Linked DNA regions of Homo sapiens. The protein of the gene in region 1 purifies or fractionates together with the protein of each later gene. This does not show direct contact. Each region holds a gene or a part of one and is shown on either strand. Other genes may lie near its edges.

Region 1 (3,500 bases):
CTCTGGAGGCTGAGGCACGAGAATCACTTCAGCCTGGGAGGCGGAAGTTGCAGTGAGCCGACATCGCACAACCGTACTCCAGCCTGGGTGACAGAGCAAGACTCTGTCCCAAACAGAAACACAGCTACCCAGATAGTTTAGCTAGATACGGGTGCACAGATGAGACAGTGCGGCTCGGGGGCCTCAGGTAGGAACGGGATTGTGAGTGTCACATCTTAGAGCTGCTTGGCTCTGTAAACTTGTATGCAGTGTGTTGAGAACAATTCTATCTATCTGTGTATCTATCTACCTACCTACCTATCTATCTTCCTACTTCTTTGTCTCTCTCTATCTACCTACCTATCTGTATATCTATGTATCTACTTATCTACCTATTTATCTATTTATTTACCTACTTATCTATCTATCTATGTGTTTATTTATTTTTGAGACAGAGTCTCGTTTTGTAGCCCAGGCTGGAGTGCGGTGGTGCCATCTTGGCTCACCGCTACCTCAGCCTCCCGAGTAGCTGGGATGACAGGCACATGCCACCACGCCCACCTAATTTTTGTATTTTTAGTAGAGATGGGGTTTCACCATGTGGGCCAGGCTTGGTCTCGAACTCCTGACCTCGTGATCCACCTGCCTCAGCCTCCCGAGTAGCTGGGATGACGGGCACGTGCCACCACGCCCACCTAATTTTTGTATTTTTAGTAGAGATGGGGTTTCACCATGTTGGCCAGGCTTGGTCTCGAACTCCTGACCTCGTGATCCACCTGCCTCAGCCTCCCGAGTAGCTGGGATGATGGGCACGCGCCACTACGCCCACCTAATTTTTGTATTTTTAGTAGAGATGGGGTTTCACCATGTTGGCCAGGCTTGGTCTTGAACTCCTGACCTCGTGATCCACCTGCATCAGCCTCCCAGAATGCTGGGATTACAGGTGTGAACCACCGCGCCCAGCCAAGAACAATACTTTTTAAAACTTATTTTAGGCCAAGTGCAGTGGTTCACGCCTGTAATCCCAGCACTCTGGGATGCTGAGGTAGGCGGATCACGGGGTCAGGAGATCGAGACCATCCTGACTAACACGGTGAAACCCCATCTCTACTAAAAATACAAAAAATTAGCTGGATGTGGCTGTGGTTGCCTGTAGGCCCAGCTACTTGGGAGGCTGAGGCAGGAGAATCGCTTGACCCTGGGAGGCGGAGATTGCAGTGAGCTGAGATTCTACCACTACGCTCTGGCCTGACCGACAGAGCAAGATTCTGTCTAAAAAAGAAAAAAACAAAACAAAGAAAACTTATTTTAAGTAGAGACAGGGTCTCACTCTTTTGCCCAGGCTGGTCTTGAATTTCTGTCTTCAAGTGATCCTTCTGCCTTGGCCTCCCAAAAGGCTGAGATTATAAGCATGAACCTTCAGGCCTGGCCGAGAGAACAGTAATATTTATTTATTTATTTATGGAGTCTCGCTCTGTCGCCACCAGGCCTGGCCGAGAGAACAGTATTATTTATTTATTGATGGAGTCTCACTCTGTCGCCCAGGCTCGAGTGCAGTGGCACAATCTCGGCTCACTGCAGCCTCTGCCTCCTGGGTTCAAGTGATTCTCCTGTCTCAGCCTCCCGAGTAGCTGGGATTACAGGCTTGTGCCACCACACCCTGCTAATTTTTTTGTATTTGTATTTGTATTTGTTTTGAGAAGGAGTTTCACTCTTTGTTACCCAGGCTGGAGTGCAGTGGCACGATATCAGCTCACCACAACCTCTGCCTCCCAGGTTCAAGCGATTCTCCTGCCTCAGCCTCCCGAGTAGCTGGGATTACAGGCATGCACCACTATGCCTGGCTATTTTTGTATTTTTTAGTAGAAATGGGGTTTCTCCATGTTGGTAAGGCTGGTCTCGACCTCCCGACTTCAGGTGATCCGCCCACCCCGGCCTCCAAAGTGCTGGAATTGCAGGCATGAGTTACCACGCCCAGCTCAATTTTTTGTATTTTTTGTAGAGACGGGGTTTAACCATGTTAGCCAGGTTGGTCTTGATCTCCTGACCTTGTGATCCACCCGCGTCAGCCTCCCAAAGTGCTGGGATTACAGGCGTGAGCCACTGCACCCGGACTGAGAATAGTAATTTTTAATTATTTTATTTTTTTGAGTCGGAGTCTTGCTCTTTTGCCCAGGCTGGAGTGCAGTGCGCGATCTCGGCTCACTGCAATGTCTGCCTCCCGGGTTCAAGCGATTCTTCTGCCTCAGCCTCCCAGGTAGCTGGGATTACAGGTGTGTGCCACCATGCCCGGCTAATTTTTGTATTTTTAATAGAGATGGGGTTTCACCACGTTGGCCAGGCTGGTCTCGATCTCCTGACCTCGTGATCCACCTGCATCGGCCTCCCAAAGTGCTGGGATTACAGACATGAGCCACCGTGCCTGGCCTAGTAATTTTTTAAATGTCTCAGAACATCCACCAAGTCCAGGCTGTCCTAGAAGGACTGGATCGGAGTCAGTGGAAGGACTGGGCTTTCTGGTTCTGCTGTTCCTGAGGGTTCTGATGCTTGTTGCTGCCTGTGTGCTTCTGGACGTTGGGCTGGCAGGGCAGGATCAGAGGCTGCATAGCACCCTTGGTGGGGATGGGGCCATGGTGGGGAGAACTTGAGGGTCAGGGACCCCAGTCTCCCTTCTAGTCATCAATAGTAGAATCATGCCTCCTTGCAGGTGAGACCTTTCTGTGCTCCGTGTTGGTAACAGGAGCCTTGTTCTTTGTTTCTCAGGGCAGTTGGGTGAGAAGCAGCTTCCATCTTCAACCTCGGATGATCGGGTAAAAGACGAGTTCAGTGACCTTTCTGAGGGGTGAGAGAAGAGTGGGTTTAAACAGCCTAAAATTTCTCCTTCAAAAACCATCAGTGACCTTTCTGAGGGGTGAGAGAAGAGTGGGTTTAAACAGCCTAAAATTTCTCCTTCAAAAACCAAACAGCCATCGTAGGGTCGGCTGCCCATGCGCTGGTACCAAACTAAGCCATCACAGGGGCCGGCTGTCCGTGCCCTGGTTGGGACACGCCTCCTCTCGAGGTGGCGGGAGAGGAGGGGCTGGGGAGCTTCCGAGGCTTCTTGTCTCTGATTGATGGTTTCCTGGGTGCCAGAGAGCACTCCCAGACCTGAGGCAGCTCCAGAGGGAGCCTGATAGGGTTTCTGACCCAGAGCAGCCTAGAAATGAGTTTGTTGAAACCACTCTGGCTGGGTCCTTTGCTTCTGCTACTGTTTTAGGGCCATAGTTTTGTGTTCGCTCCAGATGTTTCTGGAGTAGAGAAACCCCGACTTTAGCCCTTGACTATGACACTGTTGTGGCTTGAAGCCGAGGCTCTGCGAGGAGGTGTTGCAGGAGGACGGGCCTCAGAAGGGACCTCATCAGTGTCTGCAAACTCCCTGGGCCACCCCTGCCTCTGAGCCAAGCGCCATTCAGGGCAGCTGTGCCAGGCTGGGGTTTGCACCGTTTCCACCCTCTCCTGTAAACCTTGGCTGCAACACAGAT
Region 2 (3,500 bases), about 43 Mb from region 1:
TCACAAATGTTAACAAAAGTAGGGGATTCTTAATTGGGTTTGTATATATTTATAAACTGACTTAAAAGTTGTGGATGTTAAGGCTTATGGTCGGTATATTTCAATACAAGAGTACAGAAAGTAGAAGAAGAGAAAGACAGTGAAGAAGGTTATATACTATGGTGTGTGTACTGCTAAAAGACGAATACACATTTTTTTCAAGCATATGTCTGGTCAAAGCAAGTGTTTTCTTAGGCTGCTTCTAGGATCCTTAGGGGATGTATTCCTGCCTGTGAGTCTTTTTTGCCATAGTTATTTCCACTGCACAAGTGGACCCCTTGTCCCTTCCTTGGGAAAGAAAGCCCATACCTGGATCAGTGGGTATGATTTCAACAATTTTTCAGATCAATCTTTTATTGGATAGTTCCTGATATAGATAGTTATTTTGTATCTTCGCCAAAGAAGGCTTACTTGTAGCTATTTAAAAATAGACCCATATTCCTTCAGGAACTAGAAGACTGAGCAATATATAATGACCATAATGTAAATAACATTGCTTGGTGTTTTGTAGTATAAAAAGTACTTTCTATTTTCTATACCATTAGTGAGTTAACGTGGTTTTGCTGAGCTTAACTCGAATGCTCTGCAAAGAAGCAGAGTGTTTCAGGCCCTGCTGCCAACATCTTACGGACAGTTTCTAATTGTATGCAAGAACATTTAACCCTAGATGTTCAGTATTGGGCCAAGCAGAATGAATCTAAAGAACCGGTTTCTGTCCAGAACCAAAATAACTCCCTTCTATTTTTCTCATTAAAAAAAATCTGTCAATTGAAGCATTTGAAGATAAAGTGATAACTGATAAGTTTAGGAAATTAGGAATCAGGGAGCTAATCTCTATGGGCATAGAAGTTCGTGGAAAAATAAGTATCTGGAATGTTATTTGGTAGTATTATTTGAGGAGGAGCCTGGTTAAATTTACACTTCATTTGGAGGGCTGAGATTTGGATCAGTGCCCAGTGAAGGTCAAATTATGAGGGATTTCATTTGTTCGTTGATTCAATGAATATTTGAGTGCCAGGTCCTTAGTCAAGGATGGGGTATGTCTGGTGCATGAGACACACCATCATCAGGGAGCTGTCAGTCTAAAGGTGGGAGATGAGCCTTGATGAAATAATCACGCACAGATGTCTGCATGATTGGAAATAGCAGTGAGTGCTGTGATGAATTACAGAGTGTCCTAAAATTAGGTCAAGTTGCTGTTCTAGGGTTATTTACTGGAATAATGACATTTGAACTTGGGTTAGCTGTGTGAAAGGGGAGGCAGGGGTGGGGAAGGGAAAAGATTTGGGAGCTCAGTGTGTTTAAGGAGCTGAAAGGCCAGCATGGCTGGAACACAGACAGTGCTGAGAGAGACCTAGGAAATGAGATTAGAGAGGCTGGCAGGGGCCAGACAGTGCGGGGATTTGTTAGCTGGTTAGTCATTTTTGTCTTTAAGAGCAGTGGGAAGCCACTGAAGGATTTTTATTCTTGGGTGAATATGACTAGTTTTGTGTTTTGTGTTTTTGTTTTTTTGGAAACACGGTATTATTCTGTTGCCTAGGCTGGAGTACAGTGGTGCAATCATGTGATTCAATGCAGGCTCGAACTGTGGGGCTCAAGGCATCCTCTTGCCTCAGCCTCTGGATCAGCTGGGATTATAGGCATGTGCCACCACTAGCCAGCTAGTTTTTTAACAACATTTTTCTGTAGAGATGGGGGTCTCGTTGTGTTGCCCAAGCTGGTCTCGAACTCCTGGGCTCAAGCAGTCCTCCCACCTCAGTCCCCTAAAGTGCTGCTTTGTGTTTTCAGGGGTTCATTGTGGCTTCTGTGTAGAAAACAAATGGTGGGAGATGGAATTGGTAGACCAGTTAAGACGCAAGAGAGAGGACTAGAGTGGGGATATAGAGAGGACGGATGGAGGCTTACTGAGAAAGTACAATGGCTGGACTTGGTGGTCGAGTGGATATCAGAGATGAGAAGATGTAAGTGAGGTGAGAGAAGTCAAGGCTGACTTCCACATTTCTGGCTTGAAAGAATCAACACTGCGGGAGGTACAGAAGGGAATGATGTGTAAATGCTTGGCATGGTACTGGTGAGGATGATATTGGAGCCGAGTCATGGAATAGAACTATAAGCTTACCAGGTGGAAAAGGTGGAAGGCACTTCTGGCAGCTTGACTAACAAGTTACATGGAGGTTTGAAAGAGCTTGTGAAATTGAGAGTTTAGGTACAACGGCTCTGAGGCAGGAGAGGCGCAATAGGGCCAGATTATGAATCTATTTATAGTACCACGTTCAGGACTTCTTTTTGAGGGCTAAAAGGGAGCCAGCAGAGGTTTTTTCAATCGAGTAGAGGCATGCTTAAGTTCATTACAACAACAACAACAACAACAACAAAAGACTCCACTAGAGGGTGAAGGGACTAACAGCCCAATCTACAATAATTAGGAGATGGCTGGTTTCATTTTCAGTGCTTCCTTTTCACAGCAGAACTTCTTGAAAGAGTTATATATAATCACAGTCTATACTTCCTGGTGTCTCAGTAACTCTTCTACCCTGACCTCATCTCTGAAATTATGCTCAAAGACTTCCATGTTCTTGTATTCAGTCAACGTTTCACTGATCTCATCCTGCCTCTGATCTCATCTTGCTTAACGTCTTGACATTCTAGGTATTTGATCATTCCCATCTTCTTCACACCCTCTCCTCTCAGCTTCTGGGACACCACTGTTCAGCTGGTGTCTTACTGGCTTGCTTTCTCAGTCATCTTGGCCAGCTTTTCCTCTCATGCTCAAACTTTAGAATGTCAGAGTTACCCAGGGATCAGTCCTAGGCCATCTACTGTTTTTTCCCTAATCAACCTTGGAACCACTTTGGAATCACCTGAGGAATTTCTTTATAAAAGTATTCCAACCAATACATGAAGAAAGTGATAGAATATCAGTATTTTGTAACCACTAATGAAATAAAGGTTCTAGACAGTGAACATCGATGACTGCTGCAACCATTAGGGAAAGAGAACTTTATAGAGGGTGGATCAGGTTGACAACCTGTATCTGTTGATCAATCTGAACCTCACAAAAAGACATGGCCAGGCATTGTAATAAAGTCCTCAGTTACTGTTGTTGGTAGGTTCTTAGAAACTGTGATGTTAATGAAACCAATTTTACCATAGGCTGACTGATATAAACAAAAGTTAAAGTTTCTACAGCATATTTCTGGTCATGAAAACATCATCAAACTTCTAAATAAAGACCCCAAACAATTCTAATCTTAAACATTGAAATAAATGTGAACTATATATACATTAAGAAATATTAATGCAAACAAGATAATTATTGACCCAATTTCCAATTTTTGGTGAAACAGTGAGTGACAGTGGTCATTGTGGTGACGAGTAAATCAAGGAATAAATGTTTGCAAAGCGGAAATTATAAGGAGCACCTCCTGCCATCACCCACTTCAAAACAATGACAAACATAG
Region 3 (3,500 bases), on another chromosome or scaffold:
AAACATGCTGACTACCCATATACCTTTCACTTACTTTTGGCATTGATAACATTTTGCCACATTTGCTTTCTGTATTTATTAATATACAACTTTTACATATATATGTAGTAAGTTGCAGAAATCATGATACTTCACCATTAAATACTTAACTGTGCATTTCAAATGAGGATTCTTGTAAGTGTATATCTAAATATAAGATCAGATTTGCTTTTTGTAAATAATCATGGTGAGTGTTTTACAATGGTGCTTGATTAATTTTTGTCAGATTAGGTTTTCAGTAAAGTCATTGTTGGAAAAGTTTTCAGACTTAACGATACAGTAGTATATTCAGTGCTGACATGATGGACAGTTTTAGAAAGGTGGATATATGGATAATTTTCTCTCTCTGTTATGTTTTTTCAGTGGCCAGTATTTAGTTTACTAAGTTGTGGCTGAAAGTACATTACGTACTCTAACAAAATTACATCCACTAATGTATATATTTTTACCAGAAACAAATGTACCCCTGAGTTATGGAGGGGGTGAAAAGTCATATGATTCACAAAGTCGCTGTGGCAACACCAAAACAGATGACCTAGAAATGATTGTGGTTTTAAGAAAGCACCCATTGCAAGCTCATTTTTAACTCTCATCTTTCCTCCTTTTTTTTTTAATATAATACTGCTGTGACCACTTAATGTTAGGTAGATACAAAAAAGTTTTACCTTATTTTTAAAATAATGAATTATCTGAATAGATTTGAATCATTGGCTAAAACTGTTGTTAATTTTAACATTGGGTAATGAACAGAATGCTATCATTATATATTTTTTAAAATTTTTTCTAAGTGAATTGCCTTCAAGTTTATATTTAGTTGGAAACATGCACCTAATTCAGGATTTATGTATGTATGTATGTATGTATTTATTTAGAGACAGAGTCTGGCTCTGTTGCCCAGGCTGGAGTGTAGTGGCATGATCTCCGCTCACTGCAACCTCTGCCTCCCGGGTTCAAGCGATTCTCCTGCCTCAACCTCCCAAGTAGCTGGGATTACAGGCACCTGCCACCACGCCCGATTAATTTTTGTGTTTTTAGTAGAGACAGGGTTTCATTCACCATGTTGGCCAGGCTGGTCTCAAACTCCTGATCTCAGGTGATCGGCCCGCCTTGGCCTCCCAAAGTGCTGGGATTACAGGCGTGAGGCACTGTGCCGGGCCATGATTTATTTGTTTTAAATGAAGTGTCTGGCTACTTTACCCAGGGTATACTGAAGAGTATGCGTTTCTTAGAAAATAGCTCAAGGGGTATAGACGCATGAAAAGGTGGAAAACATGTTTTCCATTTAACTCCTAAGGTTTTCTTGTTATTTTGGTTTTATTTTAATAGTACTGACAAATACTACCTTGATTAGAAAGTTTGAACTATAATTCCATTTACCAGGGCTAATTTCTCCATCATTACAAAGTTTATTGTAGCTGACATTACTTTTATGTTATATTTAATCAATTTATCCTAAATTAAAAAAAAATTCAGAGTCATTGAGAGCATCAGCTCACTCATCAGTAGGCCTTTCTTGAGAGTAACTCTTTGACAATTGTCTTCAGTGATACAAAGGTTTTTGACAACAACTTTTATGATTGCTTTTAGGCCTTTTCTCTCGTGACCCTTTCTTAGTAGTTGAGAGTGTTGCCTTAAAGTCAAGATTTGTTAACTTTTTGGCCATTATTTGAATTTAAGATGGTAAATATCATCTGATTTTGTCTGATAAGGAATCATATGGGGTTTTAAAAGGCAATGGGTGTTAAATGCACTGACTTTTAATAGGTAATAAAATATTTTTAAGCTTTATGTCAGTGTGACAGTCGTGTTTTTCCAAAGTAAATTTATTTAAATAAGTATTTGGAGAATAACGTTGGACTTTTTGAAACTCAGGTTTCTCTTAAGTTTTTTGAAGTTGTTTTTATTCATTTTTAGAATGGATATAAGTTCAGATTTATTTCTCTACCATTAAATAGTCATTGTATAATTTTAGATGAGTTTCTTTAGTCACACCCTGAGGTTTTGAATATTGTAGACCACTAAACAGCACGTTTCTTAGTAACACACCTAATAGATTTTTCTTCTTATTTTAGTGGGTTTTAAAAAAAATTTGTGGGTACATAATAGGTGTCTATATTTATGGGGTACATGGGATGTTTTGGTACAGGCATGTAATGTGAAATAATCATATCATGAAGAATTAGGTATTCATCCCCTCAAGCATTTATCCTTTGAGTTACAAACATTCCAATTACATTATTTAAGTTATTTTAAAATATACAATTAAGTTATTATTGACTATAGTCACCCTATTGTGCTATCAAATAGTAGGTCTTATTCTATTTTTTTGTACCCATTAACCATCCCCACCTCCCACTCAACCCCCCATTACCCTTCCCAGCCTCTGGTAACCATCCTTCTGTTATGTCCATGAATTCAGTTGATTTGATGTTCAGATCCCACAAGTAAGTGAGAACATGTGATGTTTGTTTTTCTGTGCCTGCCTTATTTCGGTTAACATAATGATCTCCAATTCTATCCCTGTTGTTGCAAATGACTGGGTCTGTTTTTTTATGGCTGACGAGTACTCCATTGTGTGTATGTACCACATTTTCATTATCCATTCATCTGTTGATGGACACTTAGGTTGCCTCCAAATGTTAGCTATTGTAAACAGTGCTGCAACAAACATAGGAGTGCAGATCTCTTCGATACACTGATTTCCTTTATTTTGGATATATACCCAGCAGTGGAATTGCTCGATCATATGGTAGCTCTATTTTTAGTTTTTTGGGGGACCTCCAAACTGTTCTCCGTAGTGGTTGTACATTCCCACCAATGGTGAACAAGGGTTCCCTTTTCTTTACATCCTCACCAGCATTTGTTACTGCCTGACTTTTGGATAAAAGGCATTTTAACTGGGACAAGATGATATCTCATTGAGTTTTGGATATCTGATGATTAGTGATGTTGAGAACCTTTTCACCATTTGTGTGTCTTCTTTTGAGGAATGTCTATTCAGATCTTTTGCCCATTTTTTATCAGATTATTAGGTTTTTTCCTGTAGAGTTGTTTGAGCTCCTTATATTCTGGTTATTAGTCCCCTGTCAGAGGGGTAGTTTGCAAATGTTTTCTCTCGTTCTGTGGGTTGTCTCTTCACTTTGTTGATTACTTCCTTTGCTGTGCAGAAGCTTTTTAACTTGATGTGATCCCATTTGTCCATGTTTGCTTTGGTTGCCTGTGCTTGTGGGCTATTGCTCAAGAAATATTTGCTCAGACTAATGTCCTGGAGATTTTCCCCAGTGTTTTCTTGTATTAGATTCAGTTTGAAGTATTTAATGCATTTTGATTTGAATTTTGTATATGGCAAGAGATAGGGGTCTGGTTTCATGATTTTGCATGTGTTTATCCAGTTTCCCAGCACCATTTATTAAAGAGACTTGTCTTTTCCCAGTGTATGTTCTTGGCACCTTTGTCAAAAA

What was found. The genes of interacting proteins can lie anywhere in the genome.
Region 2: the proteins of ZNF276 (region 1) and SHCBP1 purify together in Homo sapiens (affinity purification with mass spectrometry; one large-scale study listed by BioGRID and IntAct). This does not show direct contact.
Region 3: the proteins of ZNF276 (region 1) and ANKRD28 purify together in Homo sapiens (affinity purification with mass spectrometry; one large-scale study listed by BioGRID and IntAct). This does not show direct contact.

Annotation. Positions count from the first base shown.
Region 1 is NC_000016.10:89,724,537-89,728,036, forward strand, and holds part of ZNF276 (zinc finger protein 276), read left to right. Parts: intron 1-2,742; coding exon 2,743-2,821; exon of another isoform or gene 2,822-2,890; intron 2,891-3,500. UniProt on the Homo sapiens protein: May be involved in transcriptional regulation.
Region 2 is NC_000016.10:46,611,380-46,614,879, reverse strand, and holds part of SHCBP1 (SHC SH2 domain-binding protein 1), read left to right. Parts: intron 1-3,500. UniProt on the Homo sapiens protein: May play a role in signaling pathways governing cellular proliferation, cell growth and differentiation. May be a component of a novel signaling pathway downstream of Shc. Acts as a positive regulator of FGF signaling in neural progenitor cells.
Region 3 is NC_000003.12:15,791,480-15,794,979, reverse strand, and holds part of ANKRD28 (serine/threonine-protein phosphatase 6 regulatory ankyrin repeat subunit A), read left to right. Parts: intron 1-3,500. UniProt on the Homo sapiens protein: Regulatory subunit of protein phosphatase 6 (PP6) that may be involved in the recognition of phosphoprotein substrates. Involved in the PP6-mediated dephosphorylation of NFKBIE opposing its degradation in response to TNF-alpha.